2 separate regions of the Homo sapiens genome follow, and region 1 is linked to region 2. The links come from fine-mapping of genetic effects on gene expression. A gene starts in region 2. The other region holds a variant in brackets. All regions are shown on one strand. Distances are between the middles of the regions.

Evidence for each region.
Region 1: its variant is fine-mapped to the expression of SMARCB1 in whole blood (INTERVAL, PIP above 0.99).

The regions. Positions count from the first base shown.
Region 1 is chr22:23,817,349-23,825,519 of GRCh38, forward strand. It overlaps SMARCB1 (SWI/SNF related BAF chromatin remodeling complex subunit B1), which reads left to right. Exons shown (of 9, transcript NM_003073.5): 7 at 7,877-8,067. Among named protein-coding and RNA genes, the nearest start is that of DERL3, 18 kb to the right of the region's middle. RefSeq lists enhancers at 7,335-7,868, 7,869-8,171. The variant TTGTC/T (reference allele first, on the strand shown) is at 3,285.
Region 2 is chr22:23,781,869-23,790,316 of GRCh38, forward strand. It overlaps SMARCB1 (SWI/SNF related BAF chromatin remodeling complex subunit B1), which reads left to right and starts at 5,098. Exons shown (of 9, transcript NM_003073.5): 1 at 5,098-5,394. The coding sequence starts at 5,302. MMP11 (matrix metallopeptidase 11) reads left to right here. Exons shown (of 8, transcript NM_005940.5): 7 at 358-615; 8 at 1,543-2,448. The coding sequence ends at 1,676.

The sequences.
Region 1 (8,171 bases), 35 kb after region 2:
GCCAGTTGAGAAATGGTGAGGCTGGCGATTGGGCGCAGGCCTGCACCCTGCAGAGCCTATAGCATAATCCTTGCTGTGCTGAGCCGCCACTGCCAGACTATGCCTTGAGGGTGAGGGGAGCTTTGAAAATAGGAAGATATGAGAAGTAGGTGAAATTGGCACATGTGATGACCCTAAAAAGGTCAGTGGTTTGGTTAGATCTGATGCTGTGCCTTTGGCTTCCATTTTAGGAAAACATTGATGTATAAAAATAAGAGCCATGTTACAAAGGGTTCCTGAAAATAGTCTTTGGGGTCGAGGAGCCTCGGGAGGGATGCCTCCTGTGACTGAGGGATGCCTCTGCCCCGTGCACCAGATGGAGCCTGGGCCGACTTCTTCCCACTGTGGTTCTCCGTGGCACTTTACTAAGATTTTGGAAAATAACGTGGGGGAATCACCAGCAACTTCCTCTGTGGTCCCCCAAGTAACAAACAACTAAATATCTTATTTAGTTAGTCAAGACAGTCTCACTGTGTCGCCCAGGCTGGAGTGCAGTGGCTCGATCTTGACTCATTGCAACCTCCACCTCCCGGGTTCAAGCAATTCTCCTGTCTCAGCCTCCTGAGTAGCTAGGATTACAGTTGCCCGCCACTAAGCCAGGCTAATTTTTGTATTTTTAGTAGAGACAGGGTTTCACCATATTTGTCAGTCTGGTCTCAAACTCCTTACCTCAGGTGATCCACCCACCTCAGCCTCCCAAAGTGCTGGGATTACAGGCATGAGCCACCGCACCTGGCCGAAATACTTTGGGTGTGTGTGTGTGTGTGTGTGTGTGTGTGTGTGTGTGTCGCAGTCTCACTCTGTCGCCCAGGCTGGCTTGCAGTGTGCGATCTCAGCTCACTGCAAGCTCCGCCTCCTGGGTTCACACCATTCTCCTACCTCAGCCTCCCAAGTAGCTGGGACTACAGGCGCTTGCCACCACGCCTGGCTAATTTTTTGTATTTTTTATAGCAGAGACTGGGTTTCACCGCGTTAGCCAGGATGGTCTCGATCTCTGGACCTCGTGATCTGCCCACCTCGACCTCCCAGAGTGCTGGGATTACAGGCATGAGCCACCACACCTGGCCAATACTTTGTTTTCTTGATTAATATTTTAAAATTGTGGTAACATTCATAACATAAAATTTACCATTTTAACCACTTAAGTGTAAATTCAGTGGCAGTATATTCACATCCATGGCTGTGTAATTATCACCACCATCCATCTCCAGAATTCTATCATCATGTAAAACTGAAACTGTCCATCAAACACTAACTCCCCATTCCCCCTCCCCCCACCCCTGGCAAGCACCATTCTGCTTTCTGTCTCTATGAATTTGACTACTCGAGGTGTCTCATTTACATTCCTAAGGGAATCATGCAGTATTTGTCCTTTTGTGACTGGCTTATTTCACTTAGCAGAATGTCTTCAAGGTTCATTTATGTTGCACCATGTCAGAATTTCCTTCCCTTTTTAAAATGTATTTATTTTTAGACAGGGTCTTACTCTGTTGCCCAGGCTGGAGTGCAGTGGCGCAGTTATGGCTCACTGCAACCTCTGCTTCCTGGGCTCAAGTGATCCACCCGGTGCAGCCTCCTGAGTAGCTGGGAAGCTAGGACTACCGGCACACTCCACCACACCCGACTGATTTTTTGTATTTTTTTTGTAGAGATGGGGTTTCGCCATGTTGCCCAGGCTGGTCTCAAACTCCTGGGCTCAAGCCATCTGCCCACCTGAGCCTCCCAAAGTGCTGGGATTACAGGCGTGAGCCACTGCGCCCAGCCTCCTTTCTTATTAAGGCTAAATAATATTCTGTTGTATGGATCTATCACATTTTTATTTATTCATCCCTAAATGGACAGACACTTGGGTTGCTTCCACATTTTGGCTATTGTGAATAATGCTGCTATGAACCTGGGTGTGCAGGTATCTGTTGGTGTCCCTGTTTTCATTTATTCATTCATTCATTCATTCATTCATTTAGATGGAGTCTCACTCTGTTGCTCAGGCTGGAGTGCAGTGGCGCGATCTTGGCTCATGGCACTCCTGCCTCCCAGGTTCAAGCAATCTCCTGCTTCAGCTTCCTGAGTAGCTGGGATTACTGGCACCCACCACCATGCCCAGCTAATTTTTTTGGATTTTTAATAGAGACCGGGTTTCACCATGTTGGCCAGCCTGGTCTCAAACTCCGCCTCAGCCTCCCAAACTCAAATGATCTGCCCACCTCGGCCTCCTAAAGTGCTGGGATTATAGGTGTGAGCCCCTGTGTCTGGCCCCTGCTTTCATTTCTTTTGGGTGTATACCTAGAAATGGAATTCCTGGATCGTACAGTAATTCCATGTTTAGTTTTTTGAGGATCCACTATACTGCCTTTCTCGGTGGCTGCACCTTTTATATTCCTACCAGCAAGGCGCAGGGGTTCCAGTTTCTCCACATCCTCACTCACACTTGTTAGTTTTTCTTTTCTTTTCTTTTTCTAGACAGAGTCTCGCTCTGTTACCCAGGCTGGAGTGCAGTGGCATGATCTTGGCTCACTGCAACTTCCACCTCCTGGATTCAAGCGATTTTCCTGCTTCAGCCTCTCGAGGAGGAGCTGGGACTACAGGCGCATGCCACCACGCCCGGCTAAATTTTGTACTTTTAGTAGAGACGGGGTCTCATCATATTGACCAGGCTGGTCTCGAACTCCCGACCACAGGTGATCCACCTGCCTTGGCCTCCCAAAGGATTATAGACGTGAGCCACTGTGCCCGGCCAGTTTGCCAGCATTTTTTTGAGGATTTTTGCATCAACATTCATAAGGGGTGTAGGTCTGTAGTTTTCCTTTCTTGTAGTATTTTTTGTCTGACTTAGGTATCAGGGCAATGAGTTAAAGAATAGTTTGAGAAGGATTGGTGTTAGCTCCTATTTAAATGTTTGGTAGATGGCCGGGTGCAGTGGCTCACGCCTGTAATCCCAGCACTTTGGGAGACCGAGGCGGGCGGATCACCTGAGGTCGGGAGTTAGAGACTACCTGACCAACATGGTGAAACCCCGTCTCTACTAAAAATACAAAAATTAGCCGGGTATGGTGGCACACACCTGTAATCCCAGCTACTCAGGAGGCTGAGGCAAGAGAATTGCTTGAGCCCGGGAGGCGGAGGTTGCAGTGAGCCGAGATGGTGCCACTGCAGTCCAGCCTGGCTGACAGCGAGACTCTGACTCAGTCAGTCAATCAGTGTTTGGTAGAATTCACCAATGAAGCCATCAGGTCTAAGGCTTTTCT[TTGTC/T]AGGAAGATTTTATTATTGATTCAGTCTCTTTACTTGTTAATACCTTTTTGAGAGGAATACAAATTTGTTTCAGTTTCACATTATGGCCAGCTAGGAGGAAAAGAAGGGACAATGGTAGGAGAGAAGTGGGGTGGGGATGGGAGTGGCAGCAAGCACCTGGCCTGTGTCCTGCATACGGTCTGCTGGCTCTGGAGGGCAGCCCTGAGGGCTCCACTCTGTGCTTCTCTTTGTCTTGTAAACATGTGGAGGATGAGGCTGTGTGGGCTAACCCACCCAGCCACGTGGTTCCAAATGACTGGGATTGGCCACACAAGGGGCCTCATGAAGCCTGACTGGTAGCTTCCCTTAACGTTTTTCTCAGAATTGAGCCCATTTTCATTGTTGTTGTCTTGACGGGGCCTGCAGAGGAGCCATACAGGAAGTTGCCCAGCAGCTGTAATCCTCCTGGGGCTGTTCCCTGCCCCACCAGAAGAGGCTTCCCCAGTGACCCTCTGACTTACCTGTGATTCCCACCTGGGGGATGGTGGCAGCTGGCAGGTTGAGAGACTGTCCCCAGCCAGGTGTCCTGCTCTGCCCTTTGGGTCAGACCAGATGTCACAGGGTGGACACAGCTGGCCCAGGGAAGCCTGTGTTATGTGGGACAGACTGCATTTTTCAGGCCAGAGGCCTCCTGGGCACCGTGACCCTGGGAACAGTGTCCTGTCTTGCCCATGAGGAATAGAAGGTCACACCCAGGGTTTCCCATCTATAATTGGGACTCAGAAGAGCTGGGTATTTCTTTCTTCCTTCCTTTTTTTTCATGGCTCACTGCAGCCTTGACCTCCTGGGTTCAAGTTATCCTGCCATCTTGGCCTCCTGAGTAGTTGGAACTATAAGCACGTACCACCATGCCTGGCTAATTTTTAAATTTTCTGTAGGAAATGGAGTCTCGGCTGGGCACCGTGGCTCATGCCTGTAATCCTAAGACTTTGGAGAGCTGAGGTGGGCAGATTGCCTGAGCTCAGGAGTTCGAGACAAGCCTGGGCAACATGGTGAAACCCTGTCTCTACTAAAAATATAAAAAATTAGCTGGGCGTGGTGGCACGTTCCTGTAATCCCAGCTACTCTGGAGGCTGAGGCATGAGAATTGCTTGAACCTGGGAGGCGGAGGTTGCAGTGAGCCAAGATTGCGCCACTACACTCCAGCCTGGGCAACAGGCTCTTCCCATCTCACTGACTCTGTCTCAAAAAAAAAAAAAAGAAAAAAGAGAAAATGGAGTCTCACTTTGTTGTCCAGGCTGGTCTCGAACTCCTGGGCTCAAGCAACTCTTCCACCTTGGCCTCCCAAACTGCTGGGATTACAGACATGAACCACTGTGCCTGGCCAGAGCTGGGTGTTTCTGTAAGGACGTCCTTTGTCTTGATCCTGGAACATGACTGAAGGAAAACAAGAATCTTTGGAGCCATGGCACATGAGGACCATCTCTCTCCTCAGAAAGAGTGCCTTAGGTTAGAGCAGCATCTTCCAGATATTCTTGGCAATGCTGGGACCAAAGCCCAGGCCTGGCTGCCCTTGCCAGGGCACCTGGCCCAAGTCGGCTTTGCCCAGTTCCAGCAGGGGTTGGGGGGCAGGGGAGGAAGCTGGGGACATGGTGCTGCTGCAGTTTGAGCCATCAGACCCTGTGGCACTGTCCAGGCCCCGTCCAGAGAGTGCATGGGGTGAGATGTGAGTCAGGGCTGGGGAGGTGGGCAGGGGCCTGGCCCTGCTGTGCACCTGCTTGGGAGTCCTGGCCCCGTCTTAGCTCTGTGAGTCCACCTGGAGTCCAGCACTCCTCACTACCCCACCAAGGCCACTGCCAGATGGCTCCCTTCCTCCCTCCCCGCCTTCCAGTAGAGGTCTCAGCATGGCAGCTCAGCCCATGTCTCTTGTCTGCCCAAAATACCGCAGAAGCTTCCCACATCCCTCTGTGGAAGCCAAGCCTGTCCAAAGGCCTCAGGGCCCTAACTGCTCTCTGCTACAGTCCCTCGCCACCCTCATCTCCTCCCTTTTCCCCTCACTGGGCAGATCCGGGTACCAGACCTTGGCTCCTCAGTCTTTTACATCTCTGTGTCCCCCACCTGGGACTGTTCTCCCCCAGGGAGCCACATTCCTGCTCCCTGGGCACATTCACTTCTTCCTAAAGGCCACCTTCCTAGAAGCCTTCCTGGCCTCCTGACTTCTGAGGCCAGCCTGGACTTTCTCCCCCTCCCTCCCTTTCCTCCCTGGCACTCCCGTGCTTTCTGGTACACCACATGCTCACTTAACCTACTTAGTGTCTGTCAGTGCCCCCACCAGCATAGCTTTTTTTTTTTTTTTTTTTTTTTTTTTTTTTTTTTTTTTTTGACACAGAGTCTCGCTGTGTTGCCCAGGCTGGACTCAAACACCTGAGCTCCAGTGATCTTCCCACCTCAGCCTCCCAAGTAACTGAGACTACAGACATGTACCACCTCACCTTTCTCAGAACAGCCTTTTGAATGTTTGTCTCTCTTGTGCCTCTCCTTGGTAGACACACAGTCTAGACTTTGGAATAAATGAATGTGTTAGTGACTGAATGGCAGGGGACAGGCAACTCCATCCATGAGCCCAGGGCAGGGAGGGCTTGCTGGGTGGGAGCCATGTGCCTATGGTCCTATGGGGTCCTGTTGGGTGGTTCCATGGGCTGTCTGCTGCTGCACGTTCTTTTTGGACCCAGCACCCACGTGGTTTGCTTGGCATTAGATTCCAGTTGGGAAGGGCCAGTGCCTCCGATTCCATTCATCATCAGGCGTGGGCGTATGTGGAGATAGCAAAGGACATGGGGGCCCGACTGCAGTCCCCATTGCCTGGCTGCATGCCGTGTACAGGACACTGCAGCTCTGCCCTCGGCTTCCTCCCTCTGCGTGAGGATTCCTTCATTCCCAGAACAAATACACCCTGCCTGTGCTAGAATTCCTGGAGGCAAATGATTCAGATTGTTTCAGACAGTCCTAAGTGCTGTGAAGAAAATAGGAGAGGTGCCAGCATGGTGGCCCGCACGTATAGTCGCAGCTACTCAGGAGACTCTCGGGGGAGGATCTTTTGAGGCCAGCCTGGGCCAACACAGAGAGGCAGCAGGGAAGCCTGCGGGGAACAGAAGGCTCAACCACAGGGTCTCTTCTCTGCCCAAAACACTTGATACATTGCCTGGGCCTTGTAGAAACCTTGTCTCTACAAAATATTAGCCAGACATGGTAGTGCATGTCCGTAGTTCCAGCTACTCAGGAGGCTGAGGCAGAAGGGTCTCTTGAGCCCAGGAGTTCAAGGCTGTAGTGAGTCATGATCATGCCATTGCACTCCAGCCTGAGTGACAGAGTGACATCCTGTCTCCAAAGGGGGAGAAAATGGAGAGAAGGGTGTGGAAAGGGGCTGATGGGAAGGGGAGCTCTCAGGAGCTGGCACTTTAGCTTAGACCAGGATGCTGAGAAGAGGCTGGTCCTGCCAGGTGAGGGGAAGAGCATTCTAGCAAGTGGGTGGTGATGTGCAGGGCTCAGAGGCACAGGGCTTTATGAACATGATCGGGGATTGGGGTACCCTAATCTCTAAAAGGAGGCAGAAGTCCCCGGAAGGGCTGGACTCCGAGGCAGTGGTGAGTTTTCCCTGCAGCTGCCCACCCTGATCCTTGACTTAAAAGCTAAGGGCCAACAATGAATGGGCAGGTGCACTGTGACCTGGTTGCCCTGTGGAGCACTGGATAGCAGTGAGGGATGACCCCAGCCCCACACTCTAATGGGAGGAGTCTTGCAAGCATGATGCAGAGTGAATGAACCTGGACCCCGAAGTGTCCATCCTATTCAGAACAGCCACACCTACTCAAGGGGTGAGAAGTCAAAATGGTGCCTCCCCAGGGGGGCAGGTGTAGGTGGGAGCCCCTGGGGTACAGTCTGTGTTCTCTCAGCTGGGTGCTGGCTTCCCAGGTGTCCACTAGTGGAAAACCCCTGACAGCACACCCGGGGCCTGGGCCCTCTGGCTGTGAGTCACGTGCTGCAGGGAGTCCTCTGGGGAATGTGGAGGAGCTGGCCCAGCACTGTGATCCCTGCAGGCTTCCCTGTCCCCTCACCGTGTTGACCCAGAGTGGGGTGCATCTGTGAACACGCTAGGCAGGGTTTTCCGAGAGGGGCAAGCTCTGTAAAGGGCATAGACATTGGCTCAAGACAGGGCTTAGGGATGCCTTAGCTGAGCCCTGCCTTTCTGGTGTAGTCACGTAAGACCGATGGCAGCAGGAGCGAAGGGCAGAAAGGAAGGTCCCCACCAGCACAGGGCACAGGGGAGATGGGATGAAGGTAAGGTGGGACTCAGGTGCCCCCGGGGTCACTTCAGGGCCTCCCGAGGGTGACTGTGCTGGGCCCTGAGCCAGAGCCCCTCATGGCAGACAGGGTTGTGGGGTCAGCCTTGTTTTGGGGATGGGGAACTGGAAGGACAAGGACCACCTGCAGTTCTCAGCTGGTGGACCCTGGTGGGCAGGGCCCACCCCAGGCCTGGCAGGGCCCCGCTCCTCGCGGCCTCCCTGGGCTGCAAAAGCTCTAACTTGTGTCCTTTGGTTGTTGCCTCAGCTGAACATCCATGTGGGAAACATTTCCCTGGTGGACCAGTTTGAGTGGGACATGTCAGAGAAGGAGAACTCACCAGAGAAGTTTGCCCTGAAGCTGTGCTCGGAGCTGGGGTTGGGCGGGGAGTTTGTCACCACCATCGCATACAGCATCCGGGGACAGCTGAGCTGGCATCAGAAGACCTACGCCTTCAGGTAGGATCATGCATGAGTCTCTCCCTCCCTCATCTCCCTGCAAAACTGTTTTGAGAAAGACTTCTCTGTGTGAGCGGTGATACCTTTGAGGCTTTCTCACGCTT
Region 2 (8,448 bases):
GCATGGGAAACCTGCGTGGGTTCCAGGGCAGTCCAGCCTGCAGGGGCCCAGGGAGTGGTCAGTAGGCATTTGTCACAGCCAAATGCCAGTGGAAGGAGCAGCCGCCCAGGCAGCCCTCTACTGATGAGAGTAACCTCACCCGTGCACTAGTTTACAGAGCATTCACTGCCCCAGCTTATCCCAGGCCTCCCGCTTCCCTCTGCGGGTGGGGTGCTGAGCAGGCATTATTGGCCTGCATGTTTTACTGATGAGGAAACTGAGGCTGGGAGAGTCTGTGGTAGGGGTCAAGCAGGTCCACAGTGGCGGGGCATGGCAGTGGTGGCTGGGCAGGTCCTTGCAGCCTTCCCTCTCCGGCAGGTGCTCAGTACTGGGTGTACGACGGTGAAAAGCCAGTCCTGGGCCCCGCACCCCTCACCGAGCTGGGCCTGGTGAGGTTCCCGGTCCATGCTGCCTTGGTCTGGGGTCCCGAGAAGAACAAGATCTACTTCTTCCGAGGCAGGGACTACTGGCGTTTCCACCCCAGCACCCGGCGTGTAGACAGTCCCGTGCCCCGCAGGGCCACTGACTGGAGAGGGGTGCCCTCTGAGATCGACGCTGCCTTCCAGGATGCTGATGGTGCGTTGGGGGTGAGGCAGCTGGTGGGAGGTGGGCACAGCAGCCGCTTCTCCCACCTGGTGGTGGCTGGGCTCCCACATGCCTGCCACAGGAAGTCTGGCTCTTCATCACAGGTCCTTTGTCCAGAGCCATCTGCCCTCCTCTCGGTGGCCGGCTAGTGCTACATTCCATATTGCAGATGAGGAAACTGAGGGTCAGAGAAGTGCAAGGTCTTACCCTGGTTTTTCAGCCACAGCCAGTAGAACAATAAACTGCTGTACACTGAGGGCCAACAATGCTCTAAGCTCCTTACTGGTCTCATCCAGTTCTCAGAACAGCCCTCTGATGTGACACCTGTTGTGAACCCAGTTTCCAGAGGAGCAAACAGAGGCTCAGGCAATGAGGCCCCTAACCTGGACTACCCTGGTGGTCCCTGCTCCTAACCACTGACCCACCCAGCCTCCCACAACCACAGGGGGCTAGAGCCAGTCCAGTGCTCCCTCCCCTGCTAGGCTCCTCTTCTGTGCTCTTTCTCCCACATCAGGACCCACTGGGAGAGCTATCCTAGGGTAGCCTCCAGCTCCAGGACTCCAGGGTGCCCGTCAATAGCCTGGCTAATTTAATAGATGCAGGAGAGAGTGATGTGGAGGGTGGTGGGGGCAACGGGACTTGCTTTCCTGAGAGGTGGGACTCAGGCCTCTGAGGCTCTGGGTACCTGTCAGGCTGGGTATTAGCCCAGCCCAGATTCCGGGGCAGGCAGAAGGGCTCCCTAGAGGGAAGAGAGGTTCTGAAAGGCCGGCCCTGGATCCTGCAGGACTCGAGGAACTCAGCAGTGGCCAAGGGCTTCCCACTCAGCCCTCCCTTAGTGCCCATCCCTGGGCACAGCCTGACAGGCAGGAGTAGGGCCCAGTGTCCGCTCGCCCAGGCTTGACCACCTTCTCTTCTCAGGCTATGCCTACTTCCTGCGCGGCCGCCTCTACTGGAAGTTTGACCCTGTGAAGGTGAAGGCTCTGGAAGGCTTCCCCCGTCTCGTGGGTCCTGACTTCTTTGGCTGTGCCGAGCCTGCCAACACTTTCCTCTGACCATGGCTTGGATGCCCTCAGGGGTGCTGACCCCTGCCAGGCCACGAATATCAGGCTAGAGACCCATGGCCATCTTTGTGGCTGTGGGCACCAGGCATGGGACTGAGCCCATGTCTCCTCAGGGGGATGGGGTGGGGTACAACCACCATGACAACTGCCGGGAGGGCCACGCAGGTCGTGGTCACCTGCCAGCGACTGTCTCAGACTGGGCAGGGAGGCTTTGGCATGACTTAAGAGGAAGGGCAGTCTTGGGCCCGCTATGCAGGTCCTGGCAAACCTGGCTGCCCTGTCTCCATCCCTGTCCCTCAGGGTAGCACCATGGCAGGACTGGGGGAACTGGAGTGTCCTTGCTGTATCCCTGTTGTGAGGTTCCTTCCAGGGGCTGGCACTGAAGCAAGGGTGCTGGGGCCCCATGGCCTTCAGCCCTGGCTGAGCAACTGGGCTGTAGGGCAGGGCCACTTCCTGAGGTCAGGTCTTGGTAGGTGCCTGCATCTGTCTGCCTTCTGGCTGACAATCCTGGAAATCTGTTCTCCAGAATCCAGGCCAAAAAGTTCACAGTCAAATGGGGAGGGGTATTCTTCATGCAGGAGACCCCAGGCCCTGGAGGCTGCAACATACCTCAATCCTGTCCCAGGCCGGATCCTCCTGAAGCCCTTTTCGCAGCACTGCTATCCTCCAAAGCCATTGTAAATGTGTGTACAGTGTGTATAAACCTTCTTCTTCTTTTTTTTTTTTTAAACTGAGGATTGTCATTAAACACAGTTGTTTTCTACCTGCCTGCTTGGTCTCCTTTTGTGAATGTTCAGCCAGGATGGGGAGGCCTGGCCACTGTCCAGCCCTATCCTGGGAGCCAGGGTCGAAGTCCACCACCCCCAAGCCTCTGGCCCTTGGGGCTGGGCACAGTGCTCAGGGCTCCTTCTGCTCCATTTCTACATCACATTTTGCTACAGTGGCTTCTTAACTGGCTCCCCACTTTCCTACTTGTCCCCTCTGTTCATCCTCCAGAGTGGTGGTTTATCTGCTCATGCCACAGCCCAGCCTGCCATACATAGCTGTGGTTTCTGCATCCGTAGGCTCAACTAACCTCGGGTAGAAAAAACAATGTTTAAAAAAAGGATGCGGACGGGCGCAGTGGCTCGTGCCTGTAATCCCAGTTCTTTGGGAGGCCGAGGTGTGTGGATCACCTGAGGTCAGAAGTTTGAGACCAGTCTGGCCAACATGGTGAAAACCCATCTCTACTAAATATACAAAAATTAGTTGGGTGTGGTGGCTCATGCCTGTAATCCCAGCTACTTGGGAGGCTGAGGCAGGAGAATCACTTGAACGTGGAGGCAGAGGTTACAGTGAGCTGAGATAGTGCCATTGCACTCCAGCCTGGGTGACAAGAGCAAAATTCCGTCTAAAAAAATAATAAAGTAAATAAATAGGCTGGGTGCAGTGGCTCATGCCTGTAATCCCAGCACTTTGGGAGGCTGAGGCCAGCAGATCACGAGGTCGGGAGATCGAGACCATCCTGGCTAACACCATGAAACCCCGTCTCTACTAAAAATACAAAAAATTAGCCAGGCGTGGTGGCGGGCGCCTGTAGTCCCAGCTACTCGGAAGGCTGAGGCAGGAGAATGGCGTGAACCCAGGAGGCGGTGCTTGCAGTGAGCCCAGATCATGCCACTGCACTCCAGCCTGGACGACAGAGCAAGACTCTGTCTCAATAAAATAAGTAAATAAATAAATAAATAAATAAATAAATAAGGGATGGTTACCTCTGTACTGAACATGTACGGACTTTTTTCCCTATCATTGTTCCCTAAACAATAGTATAACAACTATTTATATAACATTTGCATTGTATTAGGTAGTATAAGGAATCTAGAGATGATTTAAGGTATACAGGAAAGTGTGTGTAGGTTATATGCAAGTATGACACCATTTTATATAATGGACTTGAGCATCTGTGGACTTTATTATCTGCAGGGGGTCCTGGAACCAATTCCCATGGATACTGAGGGATGACTGTACTTTGGTTTCCCACCACTGTGAGGATACAGAACAAAGCAACTTCAGTCACTGCCCTTCCCAACTCTCCAGTGTCTCCTTGCCCTACCTTCCAGCCCCATGTGTGTCTTCGTAATAGCATAGTTGCATTTTTTTTTTTTTTAAGAGAGGCAGGGTCTCCCTTTGTTGCCCAGGCTGCAGTGCAGTGGTGCAATCAGCTCACTATAACCTTGAACTCCTGGGCTCAAGGGATCTTCCCCTCTCCACTTCCCAAGTAGCTGGGGCTACAGGTGCACACCGCCATGCCACACCCAGCTTATTTATTTTAGAATTTTTGTAGAGACAGGGTCTTGCTGTCTTGTCCAGTCTGGTCTCAAACTCCTGGCTTCAAGTGATCCTCCCTGCCTTGGCCTCCTAAAGAGTTGGGATTACAAGGCCGGGCGCAGTGGCTCACACCTGTAATCCCAGCACTTTGGGAGGCCGAGGGGGGCGGATCACGAGGTCAGGAGATCGAGACCATCCTGGCTAACATGGTGAAACCCTGTCTCTACTAAAAATACAAAAAATTAGCTGGGCGTGGTGGCGGGTGCCTGTAGTCCCAGCTACTTGGGAGGCTGAGGCAGGAGACTCCAGCCTCAAAAAAAAAAAAAAGAGTTGGGATTACAGGCATGAGCCGCTGAGCCCAGCCACAGCTGCAATTTCATTAGATTGAACGGTGTGAAATCATCAGTAGTGGGCCACTGTTTTACTCCCTGCATTATTCAATCATGATTGCTTTCAGACTTTCATTAGTTTCACTAGCTTCGCGCTGTAAGAGCCAAGAGGCAGAGCCACAGGGCTGGGCTGCCTGGTTTCACTCCCCACTGCAGGGCTCGGTTAAGCAGAGTGTAGGCTAAGAGAGGAATGGAGAAGGTGGAAGGTGTCTCTCCCTTCCAACGCTCATCTGATGCACCAGCCAAACCAAATACCACCTGGGCCTTTGAACATTGCCAAGCCTCATCCGCTGTTGTCATTTTGCCCACCTCCACAGCTGCAGGGACAGCCGTAGGCCCGGAACTGGGATATCTCTTCCTAGGGGCCTGCCTATCTGCTCAGCTGCACTGCGTTTTAGGGGTGGGGAAGCTAAGGCACGAGATTGGGGTCCCAAAGCATGCCCAGACCACCCAGGCTTCCAGATACTAGGTCCTCCTCCTTCAGGCCTCACTTCGTTGCTTTTCCCCTGGGCTCAGTTCCAGTCCTGGCTGTAAGACTGGGAAAGCCACTGCTTGAGTCAGGACCTCATTGGCTATTTTTGTCCGTGAGAAGTCCTCTACACCACGACTTGGGAGGCAGCCTGGGAGAAAGAGAAATTAGTCGTGGCTCCTTTAAGGGGTCCGCGGAGGCGCGCCCGGCCTTTTGTTTGAGCGGCGGCGCGCGCGTCAGCGTCAACGCCAGCGCCTGCGCACTGAGGGCGGCCTGGTCGTCGTCTGCGGCGGCGGCGGCGGCTGAGGAGCCCGGCTGAGGCGCCAGTACCCGGCCCGGTCCGCATTTCGCCTTCCGGCTTCGGTTTCCCTCGGCCCAGCACGCCCCGGCCCCGCCCCAGCCCTCCTGATCCCTCGCAGCCCGGCTCCGGCCGCCCGCCTCTGCCGCCGCAATGATGATGATGGCGCTGAGCAAGACCTTCGGGCAGAAGCCCGTGAAGTTCCAGCTGGAGGACGACGGCGAGTTCTACATGATCGGCTCCGAGGTAGCCCGGGGCGCGTTCTCGCCCTCCCCGGGCTCGGCCCCGCGGGAGCCCCGGGGCGGGCCCATGCGCCGAGAGCGCGCGTCTCCATTCATCGGGGCGGGCGGGCGCGCGCGCGCGCGCTCGGGGCTGTGGGGCGTGGCCTAGTGGGCGTGTCGGGTGTGGCCCCCGCCCCCTCATCGACCTGGGATTTCCTTACTTATTTCGCCGAGGTCCGCCGCCTTCAGTGCTGCCAAGATTTTGGCGCCGCGAGGGGCCCCAGTGGTTCCGCGCTGGGTTGGTTTCCAGTCAGACGCAAAGAAACGGGATATTGAGTTAGCCCCTGCGACGCTTGGGGGACTGCACTGCTGCCTTTGACCCTTTTTAGATGTCGTAAATTTCACGTGCACCCCTCCCCGTATTGCTACTTGTGGGAACCTCAAATGGCAGGCTGGAAACCCTGGACTTAGTGAGGGCTCATCCCCATTGTGTTTGTTGCCTCTTAGGTGAGCAGTGGAGGTCTTTTGACCTTTGTTTACCGGTGAAGAAACAGATTGGAGGAAGATGTTTGCTTTTGGGTGAATAAGGGCCCCATGCCTAAGCTAGATCTTTCAGCAGTTCTGAAGCGATTGACACTTTCCATATCTGTGAACTGATTCTGAATTATTACAGGGGAAAGAGCCTAAGGATGTTTAACCCTTAACTAGAGTGGCTGCATTTTGTTGCATCAACTGGATGACTGACTTCAGGAAAACTCTACTGGCCTTTGAATGGGTGTTTGTTCCAAGTCTATTAGGTTCTTGTTTTTTGTTTTTTATAGAGACAGGGTCTGGCTATGTTGCGCAGGCAGGTCTCCAACTCCTGGGCTCAAGCAGTCTGCCCGTCTGGGTCTCCCAAAGTGCTAGGATTACAGGCATGAGCCACCACACCCGGCCATATATTAGGTTTTTACAGATTGTCTCAAACTAGCCTTTTTTGCTCCAAAGGCAGTCCCCAGCTAGTATATGTTACCTTTTTAAAAAAATTATGGATATACAGTTCAGATGTACAAATGTCAAGCAGTAGAATCTCATGTAAGGAAGTAAGTGCCAATCCTGGAGAATTAAAGCTATCATGAAATGCCAAGAGTTTCTTCTCCTTATAGCAGTTTTTAGTATCATATTCCAGCATTTTATTCGTACTTTATTTTCTTTTATTTTTGAAAAAAGATCTCACTTTGTGCAGTGGTGTGATCTCGGCTCACTGCAGCCTTGACCTCCTGGGCTCAAGCGATCCTCCTGCCTCAGCCTCCCAAGTACCTGGGACTACAGGTGTGCACCACCGTGCCCGACTAATTTTTGTATTTTTTGTAGAGACAGGGTTTTGCCATGTTGCCCAGGCTGGTCTTGAACTCCTGGGCTCAAGTGATCCTTGCACCTCAGCCTCTCAAAGTGCTGGAATGACAGGTGTGAGCTACTGCACTCACACTCAGCGCATTCATACTTTTTAAACTTGTGGGTTTTATCCTTCACAATTGAGCATAGCATGAATGAATGAAGCCTCAAGATGGTCACACTGAGTCCCATGGATGAGACTAAGGTCAATAGCATCAGAACTTTAGTGTTAGCATTTTCCACCATTTTTTTTTTCTGGACGAGGTTTGACTCTATCACCCAGGCTGGAGTGTAGTGGTGTAATCTCGGCTCACTGCAACCTCCGCCTCCCAGGCTCAAGCCGTCCTCCCACCTCAGTCTCCCAAGTAGCTGGGACTACACGCACACACCACCACACCCGGCTAATTTTTATATTTTTAGTAAAGATGGGGTTTTACCATATTGTCCAGGCTGGTCTTAAACTTGTGAGCTCAAGTGATCTGCCCGCCTCGGCCTCCCAAAGTGCTCGATTATAGGCGTGAGCCACTGTGCCTGGCCTCCACTAATTTTTATAAAACAAAAAATATAGGATTCAATAAAATTTTCACGTTGTCACTTAAATTACAACTGTTCAAAGATGCCAGTGCTGGGGAGGTAGAGCCAGTGCCTGTCCATCTGCCACAGTTCAGAATGGTCCTCATTGGCCAGTAGGCACCTGCCTAACTGCAGAATGCAAAAGGTGTCAAATTTCAGCCTGTGATACTAGGCGAGTTGTTTACCTGATCTAATGGGTGTAAAAGTAATCAGTTTGGCTCTAAGTAGGTGACACTTCAAAAGAAAGCTTTCATTTATTAGTTGGAGCAAATTGAGAAGCTGTGCGTGGCCAAGTGGGAAGAACCTTGGGAGGCCTGGTTCCAGCCCTGCTCTGCCTTGCTGTCGTGTTTCTCATGTGTATAATGTGATGCTTAGACTAGATGGTCTCCAAGATCTTCCCCAAAACACATTTTAGTTTCTAGAAAGCTAATTACAGTCTTGTCTTTCAGCCCCTTGACTCCTGGGCCTCCCAGTAAGAATAATCTTCCTGAGACCCAGGCTGTAAGAGACTCAGTTGGAGAGGCAGTTTGTTCTTTTGGGCCTGACTTAATCATCAGACCTTCGGAGTTTAGGGAAGAGTTCAAGGTCAGAGCTCTATTGAAATTCAGTAGCTCCAGTGATAGTAGTGGATGGACGGTCTCAGCCCACTGCCCTGTGGAAAACAGGCACTGTATTCAGAGAGGTGGGCCAGCCATAGCAACATACCCAGTGCCTCCATGCGCCATCTGTGGAGCTGTCTTGGGAAGGCATCTGCATTTACTAAGAGTGTGTGTCACTGTTCTGCCATTAACAGACAGCTGTATTTACCAAGCCGGAGTCATGGAGCTTTGAGGACCCTAACAGATCCCCAAGTCCAGCACCTTGATTTTATATTCAGGAAACCTGGGTCCCAAGAGGGTGAAGGCTGGTTCAGAGGAAAGCCAGGAAGGCAAGCCCAGTTTCCTAAGTTCTGAAGGGGCTTTGGGGGGCATCTAGGAGACTCAGAGCCCTGCAGGGCCTGCAAGGTAGTCATAGGGGGGAGTATTGTCAATTTCTTTTAAAAAACCTAATGGAAACTCTACATTTACCATGATACTGGATGATACTGACACACAAGCCAAATAACATAGAGGGGTCTGTGCCCTCTATGTGG